Linked DNA regions of Homo sapiens. The protein of the gene in region 1 purifies or fractionates together with the protein of each later gene. This does not show direct contact. Each region holds a gene or a part of one and is shown on either strand. Other genes may lie near its edges.

The links.
Region 2: the proteins of RBM33 (region 1) and ZC3H11A purify together in Homo sapiens (affinity purification with mass spectrometry; one large-scale study listed by BioGRID and IntAct). This does not show direct contact.
Region 3: the proteins of RBM33 (region 1) and API5 purify together in Homo sapiens (affinity purification with mass spectrometry; one large-scale study listed by BioGRID and IntAct). This does not show direct contact.
Region 4: the proteins of RBM33 (region 1) and ATF6B purify together in Homo sapiens (affinity purification with mass spectrometry, with the first as the bait; one large-scale study listed by BioGRID). This does not show direct contact.
Region 5: the proteins of RBM33 (region 1) and EME1 purify together in Homo sapiens (affinity purification with mass spectrometry; 3 studies listed by BioGRID and IntAct, with this or other methods). This does not show direct contact.
Region 6: the proteins of RBM33 (region 1) and THOC7 purify together in Homo sapiens (affinity purification with mass spectrometry; 2 studies listed by BioGRID and IntAct, with this or other methods). This does not show direct contact.
Region 7: the proteins of RBM33 (region 1) and TOMM34 fractionate together in Homo sapiens (co-fractionation; one large-scale study listed by BioGRID). This does not show direct contact.

Annotation. Positions count from the first base shown.
Region 1 is NC_000007.14:155,741,952-155,746,133, reverse strand, and holds part of RBM33 (RNA-binding protein 33), read right to left. Parts: coding exon 4,028-4,182; intron 1,174-4,027; coding exon 532-1,173; intron 1-531. UniProt on the Homo sapiens protein: RNA reader protein, which recognizes and binds specific RNAs, thereby regulating RNA metabolic processes, such as mRNA export, mRNA stability and/or translation.
Region 2 is NC_000001.11:203,829,780-203,833,961, forward strand, and holds part of ZC3H11A (zinc finger CCCH domain-containing protein 11A), read left to right. Parts: coding exon 1-117; intron 118-343; coding exon 344-424; intron 425-1,881; coding exon 1,882-1,992; intron 1,993-4,011; coding exon 4,012-4,074; intron 4,075-4,182. UniProt on the Homo sapiens protein: Through its association with TREX complex components, may participate in the export and post-transcriptional coordination of selected mRNA transcripts, including those required to maintain the metabolic processes in embryonic cells.
Region 3 is NC_000011.10:43,325,025-43,329,206, reverse strand, and holds part of API5 (apoptosis inhibitor 5), read right to left. Parts: intron 2,701-4,182; coding exon 2,596-2,700; intron 1,419-2,595; coding exon 1,329-1,418; intron 496-1,328; coding exon 314-495; intron 1-313. UniProt on the Homo sapiens protein: Antiapoptotic factor that may have a role in protein assembly. Negatively regulates ACIN1. By binding to ACIN1, it suppresses ACIN1 cleavage from CASP3 and ACIN1-mediated DNA fragmentation. Also known to efficiently suppress E2F1-induced apoptosis.
Region 4 is NC_000006.12:32,117,808-32,121,989, forward strand, and holds part of ATF6B (cyclic AMP-dependent transcription factor ATF-6 beta), read right to left. Parts: intron 3,542-4,182; coding exon 3,456-3,541; intron 3,318-3,455; coding exon 3,182-3,317; intron 3,096-3,181; coding exon 2,964-3,095; intron 2,151-2,963; coding exon 2,017-2,150; intron 1,335-2,016; coding exon 1,149-1,334; intron 1,060-1,148; coding exon 968-1,059; intron 232-967; coding exon 52-231; intron 1-51.
Region 5 is NC_000017.11:50,379,106-50,381,983, reverse strand, and holds the end of EME1 (structure-specific endonuclease subunit EME1), read right to left. Parts: coding exon of another isoform or gene 2,878-2,878; coding exon 2,760-2,877; intron 2,533-2,759; coding exon 2,417-2,532; intron 2,320-2,416; coding exon of another isoform or gene 2,295-2,319; exon of another isoform or gene 1,673-2,294; coding exon 1,483-1,672; intron 1,222-1,482; coding exon 1,045-1,221; 3' UTR 501-1,044; downstream 1-500. UniProt on the Homo sapiens protein: Non-catalytic subunit of the structure-specific, heterodimeric DNA endonuclease MUS81-EME1 which is involved in the maintenance of genome stability. In the complex, EME1 is required for DNA cleavage, participating in DNA recognition and bending.
Region 6 is NC_000003.12:63,853,347-63,857,528, forward strand, and holds part of THOC7 (THO complex subunit 7), read right to left. Parts: intron 1-4,182. UniProt on the Homo sapiens protein: Component of the THO subcomplex of the TREX complex which is thought to couple mRNA transcription, processing and nuclear export, and which specifically associates with spliced mRNA and not with unspliced pre-mRNA.
Region 7 is NC_000020.11:44,942,907-44,947,088, forward strand, and holds part of TOMM34 (mitochondrial import receptor subunit TOM34), read right to left. Parts: intron 674-4,182; coding exon 547-673; exon of another isoform or gene 546-546; intron 308-545; coding exon 203-307; 3' UTR 1-202. UniProt on the Homo sapiens protein: Plays a role in the import of cytosolically synthesized preproteins into mitochondria. Binds the mature portion of precursor proteins. Interacts with cellular components, and possesses weak ATPase activity.

The DNA.
Region 1 (4,182 bases):
TTAGGGATTGTCACACTGGCCTTTCATTAAGACTCAAAAGAGAAAACTGAAGCATGTGCCGCATAACAACATTCTGCTCAGATGGGCGACACCTGCAAAGGCGGTCCCATGAGGTTATGACACTGTATTTTTACTGTACCTTCACTAAGATACATTTCGACACACAACTACTCATCATTGTGTGACAACTGCCTATAGTATTCAGCACAGTAACATGCTGCACAGGCTTGTGGCCAGGGAGCAACAGGCTGTACCATATAGCCTAGGTGTGCAGCAGGCTGTACCGTCTGTGTATGGAAGTACATTCTAGCACGTTCAGACAATGACAAAATCGCCTAACAACACATTTCTGAGAATGTATGCCTGTCGTCAAGCGGCAATTCTTATACCAACTTCAAGTAGGTAGAGATTGGTTACAAGACTATAACAGAGGTAACTTTTAATTCTTTCTTCAAAAACATTCTCTGCAAATGAGGACATTCTATGTGATACACAGACTCAAAGAGGCTCTCATAAAACTTGTCAACTTACCCCACCTGACAGCTTAATCACCCTGACCTTGGAGCTGATGTGGGGCCCGTCTCCACCACCACTGTTTGTCCTGTGCGTGACAGTCCTTTTCACGCCAGGCTTTGTGTCCTGGGGCCGGCCCTGGATGGACGCCACTCGAGGAGTCTGGGGGACAGCTGGCTCCTCCACATCTGCAGGTTTGATCGGGAGCACTTTATGCAGCGGCTGAGTCTGACTTTGAGGAACTGTTCTGGTCTGTCTCAAATGTTTCAGTGCTTTCATCTGTTGTCCTTGATACTGCATGTTGGCACTGGATGGTACAAAATTGGATGTTTTGGGCTGAACGTTTGAAATACTGACATCCTGGTTTTTAACAAGAAGTCTGTTCTTCACATTTTGTCTGACCTGTGCACCTGGAAAGGGCAACAGTGGGTTACCGTTGGTGGGTGATGGTGACAGTGCCTGCTCTTCCTGCTCTGCTGGGGGTGGGGGAGCGTACAGCTGCTGCTGTTGCTGCGCGAGTCTCTCCAGCAGCTCCTTCTTCCTGGCACCAGCCTGCTGCTGCCGCCGTAACTCCTTCTGTTTCAGGATTTCTTCTCTTAGGCGTTTCTGTTCTTCTATCTTTAAGCGATATAACCTTGTTTCCTCATCTTCATCAGGAAACTAAAATGGAAAACATACACGGTTTACTTTGCTATACAGGCAAGGTGCCCATAGTCTATTTCAACAAATTACAAGAACACATTTACCACAAGTCCTTTAATTCAGTATCTGAAAGAAGTCACTCAAAATCTGTTTGAAGACTTTAAGTATAACTCCTTCCTCTGGGGAGGGGGAAAAAAACCACACAGCTAAAGCTAATTTGGAAAATCTTATCAGAATATTAAAAATGAAATAATGTAAATTTCCACTCATTTACAAGTTTGAAACCAATTAAACTATTCATTTAAGATATCAAAATATGTTTCAAACAGGAATGGCAGCAGTAGGGAGGCCTGCTGTCACACAGGTTTTATCTGGCTCTTCTCTGACAAACCAACAAAAGGTGGGGTGTAAATGACCTGAAAGGCTCTGATTAGAACTATTGATTTTTCGTGCAGAATTTTCAGCCTGATCTCAAACTCATTTGTCACAGAATAATTGGTTATAATGAACAGCACAAGTCAATCTCTCTGACCTTGAACTCATGCACTCTCCTCAGAATCAAAATGTTGCCGATTGCAGTATTGGAATATTAATGGTATATAAGGAACGCCTTTAATATTCCAAGTTCCAAACCATTCTTCAAGTCGATACAAAAAAATCTTTGAAAAACTCCAGTAACTTTCAATAAAAAGCATCCAATAGGGAAAATGTATAAAAAGTTAAGCATTTTTAAAGAATTGTAATAATATTCTTTAAAAATCATCCATATCCACAGACTCCGTGTAAAATAATGTAACAGGATTTAATCTATCTAGAATTCAGCTATTTCACCATCTTACTTTCCCTAAATAAACCTTAAGAATTAGGAACTTAAGACAAAAGCACAGCTGAGGAGTCGGCTGGTGCCCTGGAGCTTGAGTGCCCGGTGCCAGCCCTCACTCAGGGATTACTTGTCGTCCTGGAAGCAATTCCGACCACCTCTGTTCTCTAATATCACATCTAGGGCAGATTTCAAACTGCAAAAATGAAGGTGGGTGAGAGGCTGTTTACAAGGGTAGGCATACAGAGCAAGACATGGCGTCCAGGGGGATAGTGGGCACAAGGGACATGGGCATCGGGGAAGCAGACGGCTGGGGACATATTCACAGGACCCAAGGGGCCACTGCCTCAAAACACAGGAATAATTACTAGTCATCGGAATTTCCCATGCAGTCAAGGAAGAGTTAAAGCATGTTCAGAACAGCAGCTGAAATACTTGAAAAGACCTCCAAATAAGCAGATTCACCCTTTATTATATCATCATCAAGAGGGGTGAACATACGAAAATAAGTCACATTTAGCTAAGCAAAACAAATAGAAGATCTTTCTTCTAAAAAGTAAAAAAATATATATAATCCTGGTCCCCTTTATATAGAGAGAGAAAATTAAAAGAAAATAAATCAAGACATTCCATTTATACTACGGTGACCTACAGGTTCCATTTCACTCAAGGCATCTTTTTGAAATAACTCCATGGAAGAATCCTTTAGAAGTTCGCCTAAATCAACTATCATGGAAGGAAGTGATCGCCAGATGTGCCAGCAGGATGCCTGAAAGGCAACTTCCCCTATTAGGTAGCCCTGTTATTATGAATGTGTGACTTCATTTTTCTGAACCAAATCAGTTACACATACTGAGTTAGGAGCTGGCTATATACACTAGAAGTATGATAAAACTTTTACCAAAGACTTCTTTCTAAACTATTCCGATCCAGTTTGTAAATCTACATTATTTTTTCACATATTGATTTTAAAACCAAAAGTCACTCGTGTTCTAATAAGAGTTCATTGTATGTTAATATTTCAACTTTGTACTTCCAATTTGGTAAACAATACATTACAACTGCTACAATAATATATCAGAAGAAAATCTAACTGAAAAAAATGAACTGATTAAAAGGTAAAACCAGTGTTGACTGGTTTTTATGAAACTAAGAAAGCATGACTTGCCTAAATTCTTCTCTAAAGCCATTCTTCATGACATTGCTATTGGACAAGTTAACTCGCTGCACTGCTTCAGAGCACTCCACATGCATTTCACTAAGGCTGACACGCCCTCCAGGTGCCAGCCTTCTGCACAGGCCGCCCTGGCCGACCCTCCTTTACCAGATGAGGAGACTGAGGCTTGTGGGAGAAGACGGCCTCAACTAAAGCCAGGTAAAGACTGAGCTGCATTGATTGTTCACACTCACTACATTCTGTGCCTACTGAAAAATTAGGAACAACAGCAACAACATATATCATCATACTTCAACACAAAGCAAACCCCCAGAAATCTTAAAAGACCAACAAGAAAATTGGTCCTATCTTCTAGAGGTTAATAGTGTAAATCAAGAAAAGTCACAGAAACCTACGGGATTCACCAGGTGTCAGCACATGACACCCCACAGGCTGAGTCCGGTCCACCACCTGGTTTTATAAAGTAAAGTTTTACCGGAACGCAGTCACATCTATTCATGGAAGAACTATATTTAAATTGCCTTTGTGCTAAAATGGCGGAGAAGGGTAATTATGACAGTCTGGACTATAAAGTCTAAAATATTTATAAAATATTTGGGCCCTTTACAGAAAAAGTTTGTTAAGCCCCGGTATATATCAATTCTGTATAACAGAACAGTAACTGTACAAATATATAAACTCTAATCTTGTAAACTAGTGAGAATACAAGTGTTTTTTTAATAAACATGGCTGTTAGGTTAAAAAAAAAAAAAGACCCAGGTGAAAAAAGTGGGAAGATTTTGTGAATAACTTAGTGAGAGTGAACTAAGACATCCAAGTTGATTCTAAGGCTTCTTGTTTGAGACCAACATTTGTTAATAAGAGCAGTGTCCTACCTCTGTTTCTGTTTTTGCCTCTTCTTTAGGTTGAGCCACAGGGCTAGCTGGCTTGACTTTCACTTCCGTCTTTCCCTGTGAGCTTCTGGAACCCGCCACGGCCCGCGAGGGTGGTGACGCGCTGACGATAGGTTTCACTTGTGCTGAGGGCGTGG
Region 2 (4,182 bases), on another chromosome or scaffold:
ATCAGTTTTCTGAGGAAGGTGATGAAACCAAAACACCTACCCTGCAACCAACTCCTGAAGTTCACAATGGATTACGAGTGACTTCTGTCCGGAAACCTGCAGTCAATATAAAGCAAGGTAAGAAGAGGCTAGATTGGTGCCTCTTATAGCACTGTTGAAACTACCTTTGAAATTTAGTTCACAATCATTGACCTCCCTCTTCTTTTTCCCATGCTACACGCATACTTACCTATACTTAGTTTCTGTTGATCATTTATTCAAAAATAAATGCCTGCTATGTACAGATAAAATACAAAGATGAAAAGGCTCCCGTTCCTCATAAAATTTCTATTTGAATTTTCAGGTGAATGTTTGAATTTTGGAATAAAAACTCTTGAGGAAATTAAGTCAAAGAAAATGAAGGAAAAATCTAAGAAGCAAGGTGGTAAGTCATCACGTTTTGGCATGGATAGTTGTATGTTGCTAGGGAAGAATACTAAGGACGCTTCTAGAAGCAACAGCCAAAATGAGCAAATAGATTTTCATTTCCATGGCCTGTTTGAAGTAAAACACAGACTTATTTAAATTGTGGTTGCTTTTAATTCACTGCAGCTGTGTTTCAGTCCCTAACTTTTCAGAGCTGGGTACAATAAAGAATCTGAAAGAACTTGTATATCTTGAAAAATATAGCTCTGAAGAACATCATATAAGAACTATATTAATTCTGTAAGTTCTTATAGTGGTTAAAAAGAAATTATATTAAGAGAGGAAAGGCTGGGCGTGGTGGCTCACGCCTGTAATCCCAGCACTTTGGGAGGCCGAGGAGGGCGAATCATGAGGTTGGGAGATCCAGACCATCCTGGCCAACATGGTGAAACCCCGTCTCTACTAAAACAAAAAATTAGCCAGGCGGGGTGGCATGCACCTGTAGTCCCAGCTACTCGGGAGGCTGAGGCATGAGAATTGCTTGAACCCAGGAGGCAGAGGTTGCAGTGAGCTGAGATCGCACCATTGTATTCCAGCCTGGCGACAGATCAAGACTCTGTCTCAAAAAAGAAAAAAAAGGAAAAACGTCATTTTCTAGTAGAAGAGTTCTTCCTCAAGAGCTGCTAGGATTTTCTTCTGGAGCTTACGTCAGCCTGATTGCTCTGTATTTCCAACCCCCAATTTTTTTTTTTTTTTTTTTTTTTTTTTTTTTTTTTTTTGAGACAGAGTTTTGCTTTTGTTGCCAGGCTGGAGTGCAATGGCGCAATCTTTGCTCACCACAACCTCCACCTCCCAGTTCAAGCTATTCTGCTGCCTCAGCCTCCTGAGTAGCTGGGATTACAGGCATGCGCCACCACGCCTGGGTAATTTTGTATTTTTGGTAAAGACAGGGTTTCTCCATGTTGGTTGGGCTGGTCTCGAACTCCCAACCTCAGGTAATCCACTGCGCCCAGCCCCCAGCCTTAAAATTTATAGTGTGAAGTGTAGTATATATAGAGAGAAATGGTTCTAAAAACCTTCTTTTAAGGCTTGCTTTATAGCAACCTTGGAGTTGTGTTTTCAGATGATTAAATAGAATAGGTTGGATTGATACACCTGATGGCTAGTGTACCTCTGAGGTTAATTTTAGAATAATACTAGCTTTATTGGTAAATATTAGCCTTATTGGTAAATAAAAGTAGTTTGGGTGCCTAAGTCACTCAAAATAATTTTATATTTTGTTTTCACATCATGCCCAAGGCTCCCCTCACCACTACTCCATTTGACTGTAGGCAAACAGATACAGAAAGGCTGATTGGCTTATAGTCATAATATCAGTCTGTATTGGACTTAACTGGTTACAAAAACAAATTTTTTGACTTGGGATAGCATTATTTTCCATAAATTATTTGCTGTTCTTTGACTTGCCTTATTCAGAGGGTTCTTCAGGAGTTTCCAGTCTTTTACTCCACCCTGAGCCCGTTCCAGGTCCTGAAAAAGAAAATGTCAGGACTGTGGTGAGGACAGTAACTCTCTCCACCAAACAAGGTAAGGTATAGATAGGTCTTAGAGTTGTCAAGCCTCTACTTTTATATAATTGGGAATGCAAAATCCTTGGGTATCTTTTACCTTTGATGAATTTTCAGGAATTTGTTAGTATGCTGATGAGATAATCTAAAGATGAAAAGTTGGTACATTCAACTCTAATATTTAAAAGGTTGAAATTCTTTGTCAAGCAGCCCTCACATATATTTTTCCATTTACTGTTTATATCCACTCAATACATTTATTGGCTTCCCATGTGACTAAAGAATAATAGGTATATATAATAAAGTTTTTTATTTATTTCTTTGAGACAGAGTTGCACTCCTGTTGCCTAGGCTGGAGTGCAATGGCATGATCTCAGCTCACCGCAGCCTCCGTCTTCTGGGTTCAAGCAATTTTCGTGTCTCGGCCTCCCAAGTAGTTGGGATTATAGGCATGTGCCACCAAGCCCGGCTGATTTTTTTGTATTTTTAGTAGAGACGGGGTTTCTCCATGTTGGTCTGGCTGGTCTCAAACTCCCGACCTCAGGTGATCCGCCCGCCTTGGCCTCCCGAAGTGCTGGGATTACAGGTGTGAGCCACCGTTCTTGGCCATTAATTTTTTTTTTTTTTAGATGGAGTCTTGCTCTGTCGCCCAGGCTAAAGTGCAATGGTGCGATCTCCACTCACTGCAACCTCCGCCTCCCAGGTTCAAGTGATTCTCCTGCTTCAGCCTCCCCAGTAGCTGGGATTATAGGCACCCGCCACCACGCCTGGCTAATTTTTGTATTTTTGGTAGAAACGGGGTTTCACCATGTTGGCCACACTGGTCTTGAACTGCTGGCCTCAAATCATCTGCCTGCCTCAGCCTCCCAAATTGCTGGGATTATAGGTGTTAGCCACCACACCCGGCCTGTAACGAAGTATTTTCACTTAATAATTTTAAGCCTAATAAGGAATTATAGATATAGATATATTTAAATGTTTGTGCAATTCAAACAACAAAGAATTAGAAGAAAGAGAGCTCACTTCTTCCTGAGGTGATCAGAGATAGTTATATTGGACAGTTAACATCGGAGTAGAGTACAGTTTCATTCAACATATCAAAGTGCATAAGCAAAAGGATAGTTTCAGCTTTATAACCAATTGGTTAAGAATACAATCTGTCTTATACTCGACTGCTATTAATAATTAGTACTATTCTAGGCTGTGCGCAGTGGCTTACATGTATAATCCCAGCACTTTGGGAGGCTGAGGCGGGCGGATCGCTTGAGGCCAGGAGTTCAAGACCAGCCTGGCCAACATGGTGAAACCCTGTCTCTACTAAAAATACAAAAATTAGGCTGGGTGTGGTGGCTCACGCCTGTAATCCCGGCACTTTGGGAGGCCGAGGCGGGCAGATCACAAGGTCAGAAATTCGAGACCAGCCCGACCAACGCGGTGAAACCTTGTCTCTACTAAAAATACAAAATTTAGCTGGGCATGGTGGTGCACGCCTGTAATCCCAGCTACTCAGGCTGAGGCAGGAGAATCGCTTGAACCCGGGAGGTGGAGGTTGCAGTGAGCCGAGATCGGGCCACTGCACTCTAGCCTGGGCGACAGAGTGAGACTCTGTCTCAAAAAAAAAAAAAAAAAAAACACCAGGTGTGGTAGTGTGCGCAGTAGTCCCAGCTACTTGGGAGGCTGAGACAGGAGAATTGCTTGAACCCAGGAGGTGGAAGTTGCAATGAGCCAAGATGGCACCACTGCACTCCAGCCTGAGTGACAGAGCAAGAGTCTATTATTATTATCAAAATAATAATAATAATTAGTACTATGCTATTGCTTCTGTTTAGGCTGTATGTTTGGCTGTTTATTATTAATAGGTTTGGGTTTTTTTTTTTTTTTTTTGATATAATGGCCTTCCTTAAGACTGAGACCTGATTTTCAAGAGACTTTCTGGGTGGATTTACACTAATATCAGAACATACTTTGTACCCATTAGTAGTTACTGAATACAGAAAAATTGACTAAGGATAGAGAAATTCTGCTTTTGCCATTTCAGGAGAAGAACCCTTGGTTAGATTGAGTCTTACTGAGAGACTGGGGAAACGAAAATTTTCAGCAGGTAAGATAAGTTTTGTGTATATCTTTTCTTTTCTACTTGTTTGTGCATTAACATGATAGCTTCTCCAAACTCTTTTTATACAGATCTTTGTTATTGGTGCCCCTGTAT
Region 3 (4,182 bases), on another chromosome or scaffold:
CTCCGCTAATTTTTTTAAAGTTATTTTTTATAGAGACAGGATCTTACTATGTTGCCCAGCTGGTCTCAAACTCCTGGTGTCAAGCAACCCTCCTGCCTTGGCCTCCCAAAGTGCTGGGATTACAGACGTGAGCCACCATGCCTGGCTCATTTCTGTCATATGTTTACAAACATGCCCATTTTCTGAACCCTCCAATCTGTATCACTGGGGTAAGGCAGGATGGGGAGCTCTCATAGAACAAAAGCAAAACCCAAGGAACTTCAGGATAGCTACCACCTTTGCCAAGGATTGAGCCACCTCAATCATATATCACCTGATTTTGAAATCTTTGAGCTTTTCTGCATTCAGTTTGGCTGTTAAGAAATCTGGAAGTTTTCGGCCCAACTGGTGAAAACTGTACAACAAACATTCCACATAACTGAACTGTAGCTTGGGTTCTTCATTACCAGCATTCTCTCCATTTTCTGCCTCTTCTGGAGGGAGGGGCATGTATTCCTAAGAGAGAAAAATATACAGATTTTGCAATCTGTTCTACATATTCAAATTATAAACAGATATTCAGGGAATTACAGTGCATGTTTTTAAGGCATGGAGCATTAAAAACTACCAAAACCAGACATTTGGATTTCTTTTTTACTTACTGGATCAATGCTCTAGCCTGTCAACGCTCCATATTAACCTGTTACAGCTGCTGTTACAGCTGCTATTATTAATAATGAAGATTAATGTAGCTATCATTTATTAGGCACTTACAGATAAAGGCACTGATGCTCTGAGAGTTAGGGTAACCTTCCCATGGTAACAAAGTTAATAAACTAAAGAGTCAGAATTCAATCTAGATTTGACATCAAATGCTGATGCTCTTAACAACTATACTATGCTTACTACAAAAATATTTTCTGAACGTAAGTCCATATTGTTTAAGTACTGACTCATTACAAGTGAAGTACTGCCAATGGCATTCAGTATCAGTGCTATAACAACCCAGTAAGTTACATCTGGACGAGTGCCAGATGTTGATGACTCAATTCATGCTAAGGACCTAATGCTTATCACTGTGTTAGTTATACAAATACATCAAATAAGAAAATCACTCAGTGATGCTGATAATGATTTTATCAGATGGCCTATTTTCTCCCTAATTATAAGAAACACCAAGATTAAAACAAAGTAGACAACAACATGTGGCCTAGGAAGCTAACAATACTTATTAGGATTATTGTTTAATTGAAATTTCAAAAACTGGTTCTTGTAATCTAGAAATTAATAATAAATTAGACTTTGAGCTATATACTGACTATCCCATAAGGAAAGGAAAAAGTTCTTACCAATAACTTATCAAATAGTTTCCTTAAATTTGTTTCTAGTTTTTCCATGTCACCACAAAATGAACTCATCTCCGCCAACAATTTCAATACCTAAAACACACAATTCACTATTACTGTTTTTTTGAATAAGCAAGGGTTATGAAATGAGAGTAATTCTAGATAACGATTTAAGACTTTATTTTCAATTATGTTTTCACAGAATCATAACATTTGAAATGGAAGAAAACCTTAGAGATAGATGCAGCCCAACATTTTACTGTGAAGGAAAGTAAAGGTCAGAGATTATGTGACTCGACAAAGTCACAGGGTGTAAGTGGCAGGGCAGACCCTAAAACCCAGATCCCATGATTTCCAATATATCTGTGAGAAGAAGTATGGAAAATAATACATACGACACTTTCTGCTACAGGTTAATGATTGTGCTAATTGCAAGGCAAAAATGATAAATATATTAACTATAAAGACACACTTAGTAAGAACTCTCAACAGCTAAGAACTAATTACTCATGGTTAAGGTGGGCCTCATTTCCTGTTAAATTTAGTCTCTGGATACTTACTCAAAATATTGGTAATGACCACTATTCTCAAGGTTCATTCCTGCATTTCCCAATCCCAGTCTGATGGGCCTAGCCCAGCACATTTGAAGCAAACTACCTTGTCAGTGCACAGTGAGATTCTTCTCTATCCCAAAGACCCATGAGGGAAATGGCACACGCATTTCCATATTTCAGTCCAATTCAATAATCACTATTGGGTGCTTGATTCAAAATCAAGTTTTGTGCCAGATTCTGGGGATACAGAGGTGAATCAGATTAAATGTAGGGAGAGATTATAAACAAATGTAAAGTATTACAGATGCTGTGAAAAAATGTTTACATACATTACAGTTGAGATACAAAGTTGGGAGGGGTAGTGAATTCTATTGAAGAAGGAATAAAGGATATTTTGTGTTAATCCAGTTTAAAATTGGCTCTGTCAGTTATGGATAGAAATGAATGAATTAAACACCTTATTTAAAAATATTAAGGCTACAAAAGTAGAGACTGACTATAATAAAACTACAGGTAAGGCTTTCCCATTGCAGCAAACTTTAATTGAATCCATGAAGCAGTCCTAATGCAATTAATTCTGGTCTAGGGAGATTACTGGCTGGCCATTACCAGACATTTAAACTGCTCCCTTAGAAATCGGATCTAAGTTAGTGGTTTACATTTTTGTTAAAATATAAGAATGCCTTATCAGTGCTAAAGCTGAAATTTTTGCTTACCTCCAACTGTATATCAAGACCTTCCACTGGGGTAGTCAAGGTACCGAGGTTAGGGAGAACCTGCTCACAGAAATATGTCACAAACCTTGTGGAATGGACATTTTTCTGTAAGAAATCCAAAGAAAATGCATTGTCGAAAAACAAATATTCGCTCAAATATTATAGCAGAATTTCATTCAATAAATGCTGAGCGCTACAGCATCAAGTATTCTGACTACAAATACGATATAGTGCACACCCCAGCATGCCCCAGATATAACCTCAATAGGTGATCTACGAAGGGGCTTCAATAAGTTCATGGAAAAATGGAATAAAAAGATAAAGAATAAAAAATATAAACTTTATTTATCAACATAAGCTCCATCAAGGTCAAGACACTTTTGCAGGTAATGATACCAGTCATCTCTGAACAACTGAGGGTCCTGGGAACTTAACCATGTCAATGCAGTCTTTTTTATACTATTAACCAAAGAAATGTGGGTGCCCTTTAAAGATGTTTTTTAAGATTAGGCAACAAAAAGAAATCAGAAGGGCCCAAATAAGGACTTTAAGGTGGATGCCTAATGATTCCTCATCAAAACTCTTAAAAAATTGTCCCTGTTTGATGAGAGGAATGAGCAGGAGCACTGTGGCGGTGGAGAACTCTGGTGATGCTTTCCTAGGCGTTTTCCTGCTCAATCTTTGGCCAACTTTCTCAAAACAAGCTCATAATAAGCAGACATTATTCTTTAGCCCTCCAGAATGTCAACCAGCAAAATGTCTTGAGCATCCCAAAAAACTGCCATAGCCCTTCCTCTTAACTGGTCTCTTTTTGCTTGGACTGGGCCCTTTTCACTTCCTGGCAGCCATTGCTTTGACTGTGTTTTGTCTTCAGAATTGCACTGCTAAAGCCATGTTTCACCTCCTGTTCCCATTCTTCAAAGACATGCTTCAGGATCTTGATCCCACTTGTTTACAATTTCCACTGAAAGCTCTGTTCTTGTCTGCAGCTAATCTGAGTGCAATGGTTTTGACACTCATCAGTAGGAAGTTTGTTAAACTTCAATTTTTCAGTCGGAATTGAATAAGCTGAACCAACTGAGATATCGATGATGTTGGCTATTGTTTCTGCTATTAATCATCGGTCTTCTTCATTTAGGGCATAAACAAGATTAAATTTTTCCTCGCAAATTGATCTGCTGCAATGGGCTTTGACGTTGTCTTGTCCCTTCTTAAAATGAGTGATCCATTTGTAAACTGTTGATTTCTTTGGGGACATTGTCTCCATAAACTTTTCATAAAGCATCAATGATTTCACTATTCTTCCACCAAGCTTCACCATAAATTCGATATTTGTTCTTGCTTCAACTTTAGCAGAATTCATGTTGCTCTGATAGGTGCTCTTTTCAAACTGATGTCTGACCCTTCTTAGTTCCTCAAACTATATCCTGTTCAGACATGTTATAAGTACAAGTTTATTTTGGTGAAAAATGTTTTGTAATCCATGCGTAGTTTTTTTTTTTTCTTTCATAATATGCATTTTCCAGGAACTTTTTGAAGACCCCTTATATACTTTACTGCAAAGTCATCTGGAGCATTGGAACATCT
Region 4 (4,182 bases), on another chromosome or scaffold:
AGACCAACTCATACCCTCAAACGAGAGGGGGCCCTCTCTCTCTCTCCTCACCTGAAACTGGGCTGGTCTGTGGGGCTGGGCTGGGGCTCCTTAGGGCCCTGGGAGGACCCCTGGAGAGGTTCAACTCCCTGAACTGGCTCTTGCTCTGAGAACCCCAGCAAGTGTCTCCGGGGTTGAGGCTCCCCCTTGTTCATCCGAGGAGAGATGGGAGCTGAAGGAGGCTCACTGATGCTGTGGATAAAGAAGGACTGAGCACAATGAAGAATTTCAGCTGTATCAAGTATCTAGGTAAGAATAAAGACTCTGCAGATGGACTGCTTGAGTTGCAATCTGTTATACAAGCCTGAGTCTGCCTCTGTAAGATGGGAATAAGGATGGTCCCTACATACAAAAAAGACAGTGCATCACCTAGAGCCTAGAACTCAGTAAGCACTTAATAGTCACTATTTCTACCAGCATTATCACCATCATCTACTCTCCACTGGAAAAATAATGGAGCAGGAGGCCGGGCGAGGTGGCTCAAGCCTGTAATCCTAGCACTTTGGGAGGCTGAGGTGGGCAGACTGCCTGAGCTCAGGAGTTCGAGACCAGCCTGGGCAACAACAGTGAAACCCTGTCTCTACTAAAAAATACAAAAAATTAGCCGGGCATGGTGGCGTGCGCCTGTAGTCCCAGCTACTTGGGAGGTTGAGGCAGGAGAATCACTTGAACCCAGGAAGCAGAGGTTGCAGTGAGCCGAGATCGTGCCACTGCACTCCAGCCTGGGCAACAGAACAAGGCTCCATCTCCAAGAAAAAAAGACAAATAATGGAGCAGGAAGGGGCTGGCCAGACACATCATCGGTGCCAAGGACACCAGAACCATTTGTATATAAGCAGAAGGAAATGGCCTGGGCCAAAGCAGGCAGCTAGGAGGCTGTAACGTGGGCTCCACCTGGAAGGTTCTAGTGAAGCAAGGAAGGTCTCACCTGACAGGTCCAAAGTTGAAGGCAATGAAGAGAAGGAAGACCATGATGCAGACCACCTTCCTGTTTCCAGACCCTAACTTGAGCTCGCTGTTCTAAGGTACAAAGAAGGAGACAAGAAAAAGGGGAATCATTCCAAGGAGGCTGTATTCCTGTTGGTCTCCCAGGGACAGACTGGTCTTACTTCAGCCAGCAGGGCCTCCAGCCGCCGCCGGAGGGCAGCATTCTCTCGGCGGAGCTGCTGGTTGTCAGCCAGTACTGCTTGCAGCCGAGCCTCCAGTCCCTGCAGATACTCTTTCTTCTTTCTCCGGGACTGGCAGGCTGACTCCCGGTTCTTGATCATTCGCTGCTGCCGCTTCAGCAGCTTTGCCTAGGCACCCGGAAGGTCAAAAAAGAATGACAGATGAGTTGGCAGAAGGAGACTATGCTCTCAAACCCCAAGGAATGATTTACCCAAAGCTCACATGGCCATTCCCCTGCCTTCCTGACCCACCTACATAGCCAGAGAGGTTTTTCCTCTCTACTCAAACACGCTAGGGAAGGGGCCCTTCTTTCAAACATTCCCTGCTACTGCTCCTCAGAGGTGGGAAAGGTTAGAGTGTGGGAAGAACTTTCTCCATGCTGGTGGAAACTCTTTCCTTCGTAACTCTTTCTTCCTGTCAGCCCACATTTGTAGGGTTCAAAGTTTAACCTTGTTATACTGCTTATACAGTTTACCTGATTTTCCCCTAGGAGGCAGCCTCCCTCCCCAACTATGGCCATGACCGTAGTCGTATAGTACAGTACGACTTCCTTGCCTTTAATTTATGGAGACCAACCCCATTTCTCCATCTGCAGTGACAGCAAACCTAAAGGACCCTAAAACTACCTGGAGTTGATATTCATATAGAAACAGGAGTCCATTCTGACCCTCAGAATGATCTAATGGGTCCGTTTCCTCACTTTTTTCTCCTAGGTATCGACTCCCTCCTCATCCCACAGTTCTCTCTATGGCAAGACTTCCCTCTTCCCTTCCCATCACTCGCCCTACTTCTCTCCTCCCCAACACTTACATCCACTTCAGGCGGGCAGGAGTTTCCAGGCATAGGAGCGGGAACGATGCTCTTCCTCTCAGGCCGTGGTAGAGAGGGAGCCGGCCCTTCAGGCTGGACTCGAATAGCACCCTGGATGAGGACAACTGGGGACACTGGGGCAAGTGAGCAGAGGTCAGAGGGCTGTGCGCTGGGTGGGGTCCTTGTGTCCACACCCACACAAGAGCACCCAAGGATTGGGCAGCCTCAATGGCTGCAAGCTCTCTGACAGGGTCAATGCAGCCCGCCTCCTTTTCTCCTTTTTTTCTTTTTTGAGATGCAGTCTTGCTCTGTCGACCAGGCTGGAGTGCAGTGGTGCGATCTCGGCTCACTGCAAGCTCCGCCTCCCGGGTTCACGCCATTCTCCTGCCTCAGCCTCCCCAGCAGCTGGAACTACAGACGCACGCCACCACGCCTGGCTAATTTTTTTGTATTTTTAGTAGAGACGGGGTTTCACTGTGTTAGTCAGGATGGTCTCGATCTCCTGACCTTGTGATCCGCCTGCCTTGGCCTGCCAAAGTGCTGGGATTACAGGCGTGAGCCACTGTGCCTGGCCTTTTTTTTTTAATTAATTAATTAATTTTTATTTTTATTTTTTGGTTTTTCTTTTTTCTTTTTTTTTTTTTTGAGACAAAGTCTCGCTTTGTCGCCCAGGCTGGAGTGCAGTGGCATGATCTCGGCTCACTGCAACCTCCGCCTCCTGGGTTCAAGTGATTCTCCTGCCTCAGCCTCCCGAGGAGCTGGGATTACAGGCGCCTGCCACCACTCCACGCTAATTTTTGTATTTTTAGTAGAGACAAGGTTTCACCACGTTGGCCAGGCTGGTCTTAAACTTCTGACCTCAGGTGATTCGCCCGCCTCAGCCTCCCAAAGTGCTGGGATTACCGGCGTGAGCCACCATGCCCGGCCCTTTTCTCCTTCTTCAGTACCTGGGGGTGGCTGGACGAGGGACTGCAGAAGGACTGTGGTGCTGGGAGGCACAGCTCTGGATGGCATTGGGACAGTGGTTAGCACTACAGGTTTGGGCTGCAGTGGCGGCTTCCGGGTGGGCAGGGCTTTGCCTGAAGGAAGGTGAGAGAAAAGAACAAGAAATGTCAGGACCAAAGGCCTCTCACTAGGGATTCCAAGTGTCAGGAGACTCCATTACCTGAGGAGCCATCAAGGGATGGGCCCATGCTGATCTGGACAGCTCCAAGTGAGGGGGCTGGGACATCCCACAGGAGGCATCCTGAAGGGGACAGGGACTCTGTCTTCACTTCCAGGACCTCCTCTCCTATAAAAGCCTATGTGGGGCATTCCAGAGATACATTAGTCAGGAAGAGTGTCGAGGAGAAGGAGCTGAAGAAGGGAAAGCTCTCATACCTCTAGGTCAGGAGGAACTCACTGGAAAACCTGGAGGAAGGAAGGAAGGTGGTGCTCACCTGGCTGGAGGAGTCGGCTGAGAGCAGGGAGGCCTCAGAGTTGACGGAAGAACATGGAGAGACAGGTTCTATCTTGGTCTGGACATCTGTGGGAGGCAGGATGAGGCAAAAGCTGGATATCATGTAAACACTGAAGGGTTAAGAGGGTTAAGATGGGAGGCTGGGCATGGTGGCTCACGCCTGTAATCTCAGCACTTTGGGAGGCCAAGGCGGGCAGATCACCTGAGGTCAGGAGTTCAAGACCAGCCTGACCAACATGGAGAAACCCCGTCTCTACTAAAAATACAAAATTAGTCGGGCATGGTGGCGCATCCCTGTGTCCCAGATACTCAGGAGGCTGAGGCAGGAGAATCGCTTGAACCTGGGAGGCAAAGGTTGCAGTGAGCCAAGATCGCGCCATTGCACTCCAGCCTGGGCAAGAAGAGCAAAACTCCATCTCAAAAAAATAAAAAAGAGGGTTAAGATGGGGAAATGGGTCCTTTCTCTTTGAACCTGAAAATAAAACTCTTCTGGCCCTAGATTACAGGCCATCCAGGAGGGGCAGTCACAGAGCTGCTCACCTGCTGGCTCTCCGCCCCGCTTTTCGCCTAGTGCTTCCCTTTCTCCTTTAGTGGCTCCTCTGATTTTTCTCATCCCTGCTCCATGTTCCTCAAAGCTGTCTTTGCCCTTCTGCGTTTCCCTCTTTCTTGTTCACAGAACTTGTCTATTCACATAGAATAGGCCTGAG
Region 5 (2,878 bases), on another chromosome or scaffold:
ACCTGCTTCTGCAGGTTTTGAAGTGTCAGCTTCATAAGACACTGAGGTTTAGAATTGTTTGATTCTAGACCATAACTGAAGGGCATAAATGGAAACAGGATATGAAGGGAAACAAGTAGCATCATGGAGCTGAAAAGTGGTGCATCACCCAATGGCTAGCACAAACAAGGATCACACTGTCCATTCTCTTGTCTGCTAAATTAAGCATTTTCTTGCCTCCTTTGCTTCATCTTTTCACAACAGCTGGATAGAGGGATCAGAAATGACTGTGTCATGGTGCTCATTCACTGCAAACTCCCAGTTGCAAGCTCCTTGGCTCCCCCGGAGGGAGCAAGAATCTCATAGTTCAGAGACACAGAGGGCCTTTTAGCCCTAATGACCTTTTGGATGGGACTGCAACTCATGACTATCCTGATATTGGAAGAAAGGACTTTGTTAATCTTCTCCCCCATAGCTCTGCTGCGTAGGTCTACATCTTACTCAGAATCACTACACATTCCTTTAGTCTTCCTCCAAGCTCCAGAGCCATTGGTACAAATGCTTTATTGAAACTAAATACATAATACACACAATGAGATGAAGACAATATAGAAGTCCGCATAGTCATCATAATCCCGTTCCTTGGCCGGTTGAGGCAGCTCAGTGGCTGAGCCCAGTCAAGCCAACCCGCAGCTTCACTCACGACTTCAAGATTTGATGCTAATTCTTTTGGATTTCTACAGTTATTAAATAAGTGTCTGAGTGGACTGTCTTTGTTCCTTTGTGTTTTGAGGGCTGGCTGGGTAGGAGTGGGGGTGGTTTGTCTGTGGCAGTGAATTTTTGCCAGGAGAGGAACATTAAATGCCAAAGGTAGGTGGCAGTATTTCAGTCTCTGCCCCAGCCGACAGGCAGAGAGACCTTCACAAATAATAAGACCCAAGAAAGACTGGGCCTCACCTAGGCTTGTGTTCCAGGAGGTGCTGCCAGTCTCTTCATTACAGTCAGGCTCTGAGGTTGGGGAAGTGGAAGTTTCCAGCTTTTCATCCTCATCCCTGAGGGCTAGAATCAGTCAGCACTATCTAAAGAGAGATGTGGCTGTAAAGTGGTCATCTGAAGGTAGATACGCCTGGATAGTTCTGGTCCAATGCGGCGAGAAGTGGATGTCACACCTTCCCCACGGCGCACCTGTATGTCTGCGAGCAAATTCTGGCGTTCTTTATCCGAAAAACACTGCTGATAAGCCTGGAAGTGGTAGATGACCTCTTAATATGGTACCATCCATGGTGATCCCTTCTCCATGAGCATGGAGGGTGCTACGCTTGGCTTGGGGCATGAGAACCTGTCCTCCCTCCCTGGGTCAGCATTAGCAACACTGATCTTAGTAGACCTGCACTGCTGACCTGTGAGGCCTTTGTGGGCCCTCAACAGTTGTCCATGGAAATCTGGGGGCCCACTGAGCCCGCAGGCAATGGGCAGTGACCCCTGAGCCCTGGAGCAGCATACCTGTACCAGGAGCTGTGGGGAGGGATAGGCATTCACAACTGCACTGGCCATTTCCAGGCTGACTCGGTTCAGCTGCTGAATCTGTCTCCTCCAGACTAGTGCGAGTCCCCTGCCAGCAAGGTCCACCTTCACCCCTCCAGCCCAGTCACTCTCCAGACAGAAGGAGAAGGTAGTTTCATCTCGGAGCTTCCTGCAACAGCGTGGTTGGAGAGCTGTAAGTTGCTCATTACTCTTCTACACCTGTTCCCCTCAAGTGGCAACTGAAAACCCCCCCACTGACCTTGGAAGAGGTGGGCGCCATGTTACATCTGGCCTTTTTGTGCCTTTGACAATTTGAGTGCTCACTTTGTTGCCAGGTATAGGGCCAGTTGCTGATTCATTTAAAAACTACATCTAGTCCATTATAGTAGAAGAAAAGATACCAGATTCTTTGGATATCTGGCAATCTGCAATCTATTTCTGGTTCTTCTAACTGCTAGGAGCTTAGACAAGTCAATCTCTTCAGGCCTCAGTCCCCTCAAGTATAAAATAAGGGACTTGGACTGGATTGTCTCTGAGGTCATTTACTTATTTTAAATTCTGACAGTGAACACTTCTTGAACTGAGTAGGCCAAAAATTTGCTTTCCTAGTGCTTATTACATTGTGATCTGACCTGTAATTAATCCTGGTAACTTGGCCTATGGTAACCTGGCCTATGATATCAGCCTGCAGAACACATACTTACATATAGGCGAAAGGAGAATATTTGAAAAGGCGCTAGGCTTGAGGACTCTTCCCAAGAATCCCCAGTGTGAGGTCAGCTCCTTCTGCCTCAAGCTTGAGAGACAATGGGCTGACTGCAGAGATGAGGGGAAAGGGACATTTGCTTTGACTGCAAGAGCCATGGTAAAGGACAGGCCCAGCATGGAGGCTGGACTTGCTGGGGTTACTCACTTGAAGGGCGCCTCAGCCACAGCCTTTGTGAATGCGCATGTGAAGTCGGCCAGCTCTTTCCAGCTCTGCACAATTTGAGCCTGGGCTTCTGTGTGTAGCTGCAGATCCACCAATGCCTAGAAACCCAAAAGCAACGATGGACTGGAAGGGTAGGAAGAGACTAGCTGCCAAGTCACTGTCCACTAAAGCCACACCCCAGCCCCTTGGCTTCCTGTTTGGTACCTTCTCTTAGTCAGTGCCAAGGCAGAAAACAGTACGCAGCAGGCATTTTATTCTCTATCAATAGCAAGTCTCAGGTGACCAGTGAGTACCCAGCCCGATTCAGGCAACAGGACGTTCTTACCTCTTCAGCGTCTACCCTGGATACCATGGACCCTATGCTGGCCTCTGGTTGTCTCTGCTGCTGCTTCTTGGTCTGTTTATTTGCTCCCTGTTTCCCTCTTCTTGGAGGATTCTGAGCAC
Region 6 (4,182 bases), on another chromosome or scaffold:
CTCTCCCTCTTTAGTCTAAGCACACCTCACAGCCAACTGCCTAGACCAGAAAAACGAAACAAAACAAAAACTGGACCCAATGTTTACTGTGTGTGCATGTGTGTATATTCACGTAAGACCAACATCTGATTTCATCTGTAAAATGGGAATAAAACTATCTACTTTATAGAAATATTGGGAAACTTAAGGGAAATAAAAGTATACAAAGGAGCACAATGTCTGTCTATAGTACGAAAACAAAAAATATGTTATCCTTATGTTTATGTTAAATTTAATTCACGGCCGGGCACTATGGCTCACGCCTGTAATCCCAGCACTTTGGGAGGCCAAGGCGGGAGGATCACGAGGTCAGGAGATCGAGACCATCCTGGCTAACGCGGTGAAACCCTGTCTGTACTGAAAATACAAAAAATTAGCCGGGCATAGTGGCGGGCGCCTGTAGTCCCAGCTATTCGGGAAGCTGAGGCAGGAGAATGGCGTGAACCCGGGAGGTGGAGCTTGCAGTGAGCCAAGGTCGCGCCACTGCACTCCAGGCTGGGTGACAAAGCGAGACTCCGTCTCAAAAAAAAAAAAAAAAAATTTAATCCACAACTTGTATCATCCTATAAAAGTCAGAGTAAATGTTGAAGATTTATCTATAGATATATCTATGTAGATACATATTAGGCATTTATGCATATCAAGTTTTGCCCAGTTAGGATTCCTTACAAATTTGCTTCTGTCTCAAATTTACTGGGAAGGTCATGGCGTTTCTAGCTGAAATTGTGCACAGAGAGTTGCTGCCTAGAAAACTCTGTGGACAAGAATTATTGAAATAACATGTATAAAGTACAGAGCACAGCTCCAACAGAAACAGAATAAAACAAAAAGGTAAGCTCTCAGTTTGAGAATAGCCTCTGTTCTTTTTAAATTTAAAGATGGACTGCTGCTGATAGTTCCTAACACAAATGCCATGAGCATTATTATTTTTAATGACATCTTATCAATTAGCTCCATAATGAACACACTTAAAATATGTTTTGTTTACTATACATGTTGACTTCACAAATTATCATGCTTGAAACCCTCTGTAAGCAGTTTGAATGCTTATATTAGTAATTCTGCTGGGCTTTGGTCTATCCTGTAAAAACAGTAAAGATGGCTTAGCAGATTTTTTGTTATTTTTTTTATGTTATCAACATCACTCCTTGTCATAATTACTTTCTTTACTATGAGGATGAACATCATCTGGAAAGAGTTTCTAAACCAAAATACTTGACACCTGCTGTGAGGATGGTGGTTTTCCACCTGGCTTTAGGCTTGTAGGACAATGGCTGGATAATACCATCCATCTAGCTCCTGGAAAGACTGTGGAGTGTGAATCTGAGTCAAGAAAAGGAGGGCCGGGCGCGGTGGCTCACGCCTGTAATCCCAGCACTTTGTGAGGCCGAGGCGGGCGGATCACGAGGTCAGGAGATCGAGACCATCCCGGCTAAAACGCTGAAACCCCGTCTCTACTAAAAATACAAAAAATTAGCCGGGCGTAGTGGCGGGCGCCTGTAGTCCCAGCTACTTGGGAGGCTGAGGCAGGAGAATGGCGTGAACCCGGGAGGCGGAGCTTGCAGTGAGCCGAGATCCCGCCACTGCACTCCAGCCTGGGCGACAGAGCGAGACTCCGTCTCAAAAAAAAAAAAAAGAAAGAAAAGGAGGCAGCAATTAACTTCACGTATTAATTAGTGAGTAATATGACCACACATTGTCTAGAGTATACTGTCTATGAGGCAGGGGCATGAGATACATATTTGCTCATCAAAATGCCTCATATCCAATATGCCTAAATGTTAACCACTGAAAACATAAAAAAACAGGATTGGTTTAACAGTAGACTATTATCACAATTCTAGAACTTATGACTTCCTACTGGATTTCGTTATACCATAATTGCACATACAAAATATCTTTCAAAATCAGTTTAAAATCAGTAATGACACATTTATGCTGAAATGTAAATATTTACTTGCAAAATGGGATACATATATGCCAACATATAGCCAGAAGAAATATAAAATTATTCAAGACACCAAATAAGCCTCAAAAAGTCCTTAGATCTTAAAACTCTATGTTTCATAAACATAGAGGCAGGAAGAAATGACTCCTTTACAGTTACTAGAGCAACTCTAGATTTCTAGGCCTCTGGTCAGATGACACAGCCATTTTAGCTGTGCTCTCATTTTAGCATAAAAGGGAGTTTCTCATAAACCCAGACTAACGTTTTCAAAATTCATAATTGTTCTTTCCCTATATTTGCCATTAAAACCTTGATTACAAAACAACTTCAGAGACAGGTCAAGGCTTGACAACCAGAGGCAATAGCATCATTGTTATGTAACTCCTTGCTAAGGCTAAATTGCAGGTCAAATGTGGTTCCCTTTGAGGGAAGGCTGCAATCTCACCTGCCTTTGTGAACTAGTAATCCTGTGATCTACCAGTGAGGATTAGCATTTCCTTTCTAAATGCAGTTTGGCAAAAAATTTGGTAGGTACCAAACTGAAAGCCACAGGAAGGGATAACAATTTCAGACAGGATTATAGTGGGGAAAACAGCTAGCTACTAAGGCATTACAGCAAGATATACCAAAATTAAAGACACATATACCTTTTGACTTATCTTTTAGAAATTATTCCCACAAGTACGCGAATATATCTATGCAAATATCTCCATTGTAACACTGTTTGGAAGAGTAAAAAACTGAAAACAAACTAAATGCCAATAGAGGATCTGTCTAAAAAATTAATAGACTATACACACTGATATAAAAGAATAAGGTAGATTTATATTCAAAAGAGCTCCATGATAAGCTAAAAATTGAAACAACTGAACTCATGGAGGTAGAAAATAGAGATGGTTACGAGAGGCTGGGAAGAGCTGTGGGGTGTGTGGTGGCAGGGGAGGGGCGGGGATGCTTAATTAGTACAAAAACATAGAGTGAATAGGATCTAGTATTTGATAGCACAATAGGATGATTATAGTCAACAATAATTTATTGCACATTTTATACCAACTAAAAGAGCATAACTAGAATGTTTATAACAAATGATAAATGCTTGAAGACAATGGATATCCTATCTACCCTGCTGTGATTATTTTGCATTGTATGCATGTATCAAAATATCTCATGTACCCCATAAATATACGCACCTACTATATCACTTAAAAAAAATTTTATGGGTACACAGAAGTTGAATACAGACCAGTGTGTAAATGACTGTATAAAATTTTCAAGCATATATACCCACTGGTATACTAGCCAGCAGATACGTAACACTTAAATATGCTAAGGACTGCTTTAGATGCTTTTCACATATAAACACACTTAATCTACACAACAGCATTATAGATTTTTTTTTTTTTTAGACAGAGTCTTGCACTGTTGCCCAGGCTGGAGTGCGTGGCGCTATCTCGGCTCACTGCAAGCTCCGCCTCCCAGGTTCATGCCACTCTACTGCCTCAGCCTCCCAAGTAGCTGGGACTACAGGCGCCCGCTACCACGCCCAGCTAATTCTTTTGTATTTTTAGTAGAGACGGGGTTTCACCGTGTTAGCCAGGATGGTCTTGAACGCCTGACCTCGTGACCTACCCGCCTCGGCCTCCCCAAGTGCTGGGATTACAGGCGTGAGCCACCTTGCCCGGCCTCATTATAGATATTCTTATCCCTATTTTACCAATGAAAAAGCATCTTGCCAAAAATTAAATGTCACAGGAAGTAAGGAATAGAAATGGAACTCAAACTCAGGAGTCAGGCTCCAGAGAAGATACTTTTACCTTTTAGAGGCATTAAAAATCATTCTGGGAGAGGAATTATTACGGAAGGTAAAGAGGGGAAGGTTTTCATTTTTCATATTGTGCATTTCTTCTTGAATTTACTGACATGTAGTACTTTTTTTATGAAGTAGTAACAGTGGTTAACTGGGTGGTAAACTTATTTATCATTCTCAGGTACTTCATTTTCTCTGTATTAAAAATTCTACTCCGTTACTGAATAAAGCTATGATATGTTAACAACAACAAAGAAAACTGGCTTGATTTGACCTACTTTAAATGAACAAGAAGAGAGACTAAGGCCATGTAAAAAAAATGTTCATGCAGATTCCTGTAAGATTTATCGTTAGACCACCACAGCTCATGTTATTAAGATGAATCACA
Region 7 (4,182 bases), on another chromosome or scaffold:
ACAACCATGTCTGTGTTTGACTACACTGAGTTTAATTTGAACAAGCAAAGCCTCTTACAGGGTGGGAGGCCATCAAGGGATTGAGGAGGGGGCTTCAGAGCTCACTTGGGGCATGCTGGGTTTCAGGAGCGGGCACAGAGCAGGTGGCCCATGGCTTCTCTGGGTAAGGTCAGGCAGGGGTTCCAGTTGCCCTGTTGGGTTTTTAGTGTAGGTTCTGCTTCACTTCCTGCCGCAACTTCTGTGCAGGACCATTCCTAGGCTCAATCTGTAGGAGGTTGCTGATGTCTGCAAAGCTGGATTTATAGTCCTAATAGAAGAAAAGACAGGAGTGTGGGGGAAGGTTCCCGGACTGGGGTGGGGATAGCTGCTGAGGCAGCAAAGTGTTTTCAAACCCCAGCCCACAGGCCTGCTCTGAGTTATCCTGGGCCCAGGATGAGAAGGAAAAGCTGCAGATATTGTCTCAGCTTGGCTACACCCTGTAAATGGTGACACTGGCATAAATCTCTGTAGCTATGTTGGGACCTTTTGGCCAGGATTTTTTTTTACCTTGAGTGCTTTGTGGGCTTGAGCCCGTCTGTAGAATGCCTTCACGTTCTTTCCATCCAGCTTGAGGGCTTCTGTGCAGTCCTTCACTGCTTCTGTGTACTGCTTCAGGACCAAATAGCAGAGTGCTCTGAAGGGAAAGACCATTTCAGAGGTTTCAGTCACGTCTTATGGGCCACCCACATGCCACGCAGTAGTTTGAGAAGTGATCTCCAATTTGCTGAACACCTACTCTGTGCTGGTTACTTTATGTCTTCTTAAATCCTCACAACAATCCTAGCCCTTTTCATGGATGAAACATGCTGGCTCAGAAGGGTAAAGGAACTTGGGCCAGGTACCGCCAGTATTAAGGGGCAGACCCAGGATTCAAATAGGCGGGCGTTCGTTCATGGGACTCCAGATCCTGATCTCATCTAGTTCTATCATGCTGTACTGCGCTCTCCTATACTGAGCTCTTTCAAGCAAAGAAAAGGTTTCCTGAAACTTTTCCCTTGACAGATTAAAAAATTATCTACTTTAAGGGGGAAAAAAAAACCCAACAACTACTGAACTCTAATGATATAATGCTGACATGGGGTGAAATGTAAAGACGTTTGCAATTTACTTTTAAGTGCATCAAACACAATAATACAGACCAACAGATGGCTAAATAGTGATAAGGCAATGTAATAATACTAATTGTAGAATTTAGATGGTAGGTCTATGGGTGTTCAATGTACAAATCTTTCAACTTTCCTATATTTTGAACATTTTCATAATAAAATGTTGGAAAAAAGTTATGTGCATCCATACAATATATTCTGCATCTGTGGGTTCAAAAAAGTGCATGTGTGTATATATCTTCCTCATTCAGATCTAGTCCTTCTCTCCAAAGACAGTCACTAAAAACAAAACAGTCAGATGTCTGGGCGCTCATTACATAAGTTCATCTGTTCCACCTCACTGTTTTCAGTGGGTGCAGGGTATTCACTAAGTTGGATGTAGCATAATTTATTTTACCAATTTCCTATCAAGAGGTATTTTTCATTGTTTCCAGTTTGTAAATAAGTGATGCCATGATGAACATCCTTGTGCAAGGGACTGCTGTATCCAAAGATACATGCATTTTAAAACCTGACTGGCCAGGTGCAGTGGCTCATGCTTATAATCCCAGCACTTTGGGAGGCCAAGGTGGGAAGGTCACTTGAGCCCAGGAGTTTGAGACCAGCCTGGGCAACATAGGGAGACCCCATCTCTTAAACAAAACAAAACAAAAAAAGAAATAAAATCTGATTGTTACTGCCAAAATGCTTTCCAAAAAAGCTGAATAGTTATTGACAGAGCCTATTTTCCTACAACTGTACCAACTTTGGGTCTTAAATTTTCATGTATGCCAATATGGAATAAAACACTATCTCACTGCCTTAGCTGCTTAGTTGTGGGTAAAGCTGAACATCTTTAATAAGGGTTTTTAATCTTTTGAAATCAAACTTCTCTAACTTTTCCTTTAACGACTTCTGTAACATTTTTTTCCCTTCACATAAGAATACCTTCCCCACTGCAAGATAGTTAATCCATGTGTTCTTCTAGAACTTAATGGTTTCGCTTTTTACATTCCAAACTGTGATCCACTCAGAACTTACTTTAAAATAAGAAGCAAGGTAGGATTCAAGTTTAACTCTAACCTGGCCAACCCAACACCTCTTATTAAATAATCTCTCTTTGCCCCAGACTTTATTATACACCAGATTCTCTCATGTCGTTGTTCTCATTTTTTTCTGACTTATCATGAATTTAAAGAAGAAAATTCTACTAGTCCTTTGTGATTGCATGGAATTCATAAATTAACGGAGAGAAAAATCTTCTTGTAACAACTTAAAAGACAGGCACAAATTCTTTGGCAATCCTCCACTGAGAGGCGGAGGTGTATCTGCTCTCTCTCTTTGAATTCGGGCAGGCTCTGTGACTGCTCTGACCAACAGAGGACAGAGGAAGGGACACGATGTGACTTCCAAGGTTAGGTCATAATAGGCCTTGCAGCTTCCACCTTGGTCTCTGGAAACACTCGCTCTTGGAGCCTTGAACTGACAGGGAAGAAGCCAACTACTCTGAGGCCACCACGCTCTCAGGAAGCTCACAGCAGCACACATGAAAAGGCTGCTAAGAAAGTGGAAAGAGGTGCCAGCTTGCTCTAGCAGTTCCATCACCCAGCCATTTGAGTCAGGCAGCCCAGCTGCCAGACATTCGAGGAAGAAGGCTTTAGAGGATTCCAGCCCCAGCTACCATCTTGCTGACCCTGCATGAGAGACCCCAAATGAGAACTGCCCTTCCCTAATTCCTGACTCCACAAATTACAAGCAAAATAAAATGGTTGTTGTAAATCACCAAGTTTTAGAATAGTAGCCCGTTTTAAACTTTGAACACAGAAGAATTCCTTTTTTTTTTTGGAGACAGGGTCTCACTCTGTCACCCAGGCTGGAGTGCAGTGGCATGATAACAGCTCACTGCAACCTCCGCCTCCTGGGTTCAAGCGATTCTCCTACTTCAGCCTCCCGAGTAGCTGGGATTACAGGTGCATGCCACCATGCCCAGCTAACTTTTGTATTTTTTGGTAGAGATGGGGTTTCACCATGTTGGCCAGCCTGGTCTCAAACTCCTAACCTCAAGCAATCTGCCCACCTCAGCCTCCCAAAGTGCTGGGATTACAGGCATGAGCCACCTCTAAACATAGAGGAATTCTAAGGAAATTAAAGTTTCCTCCCAATGGGCTTGGCAATTTAAAGAAATAGCCAAGTGTCTGGGAAGCAGAGGAACCACCGTGTATCGTGACTTCAGAATAGAAATGTGATTAATAGGGTCATGTGAGACTTCTAAAGACTATATTTAAGATGAACAAAATGCATAACTTCAGGCAATAAAATAAACCCCCTTGACTTTTGGTAAATGAAGTAACTGTATCCAGTCAGAAGGGTTTTAATTACAAAGGGGTTGGGAAATAACACAAGTGAGTGAAAGGGAAATAAGCTTTGGAGTCACAAAGATCTGGCTTAAATCTCAGCCACCATGTACTAGTTGTTTAACTTTGTGGTCACTAATTCATCTTTCTGAGCCTGATTAGGTAACACAGGACAATGATCTAAGCTGAAGAACTGTTGTGAGTACAAGTGAGATTCTTATGACAGCTGTTTCAGGGCTGGCAAGTTGTAGGTGCTATGCACTCAGATGTCACCTGCACAAAGGGAGCCAAAGTAAGCCAAAGCCTGGGCATTGTGTCATTCAGATGGGCGTACATGAGGTGGAGCATTAGACTATGTCCAAGACGTTCCAGGACATGATAAAATGTTAGCCACAATGGCTGAAAGTTGTTTTGTCATTAGTCCTCTAGATTAAATTATAAATCCAATGCAATCACAACCAAAAGCTGTCCAACAAGACATTTTTTGGAATTTGCCAAAATGATCCGAAGCTTTAGCTAGAAGAACAAACATGGGAAAATACTAGGAATGCTCTGATTAAGAAGAATGAAGAAAAGACCAGCCCTATAAGATATTATAAAGCAAAAGCAATTAAAACAGTGTGGCACAGACACCTGCATGAAGAACAGTATCTAAACAAGACAAAACACAGCTCCAAATATGGTAATGATCCAGAAAAATGAGT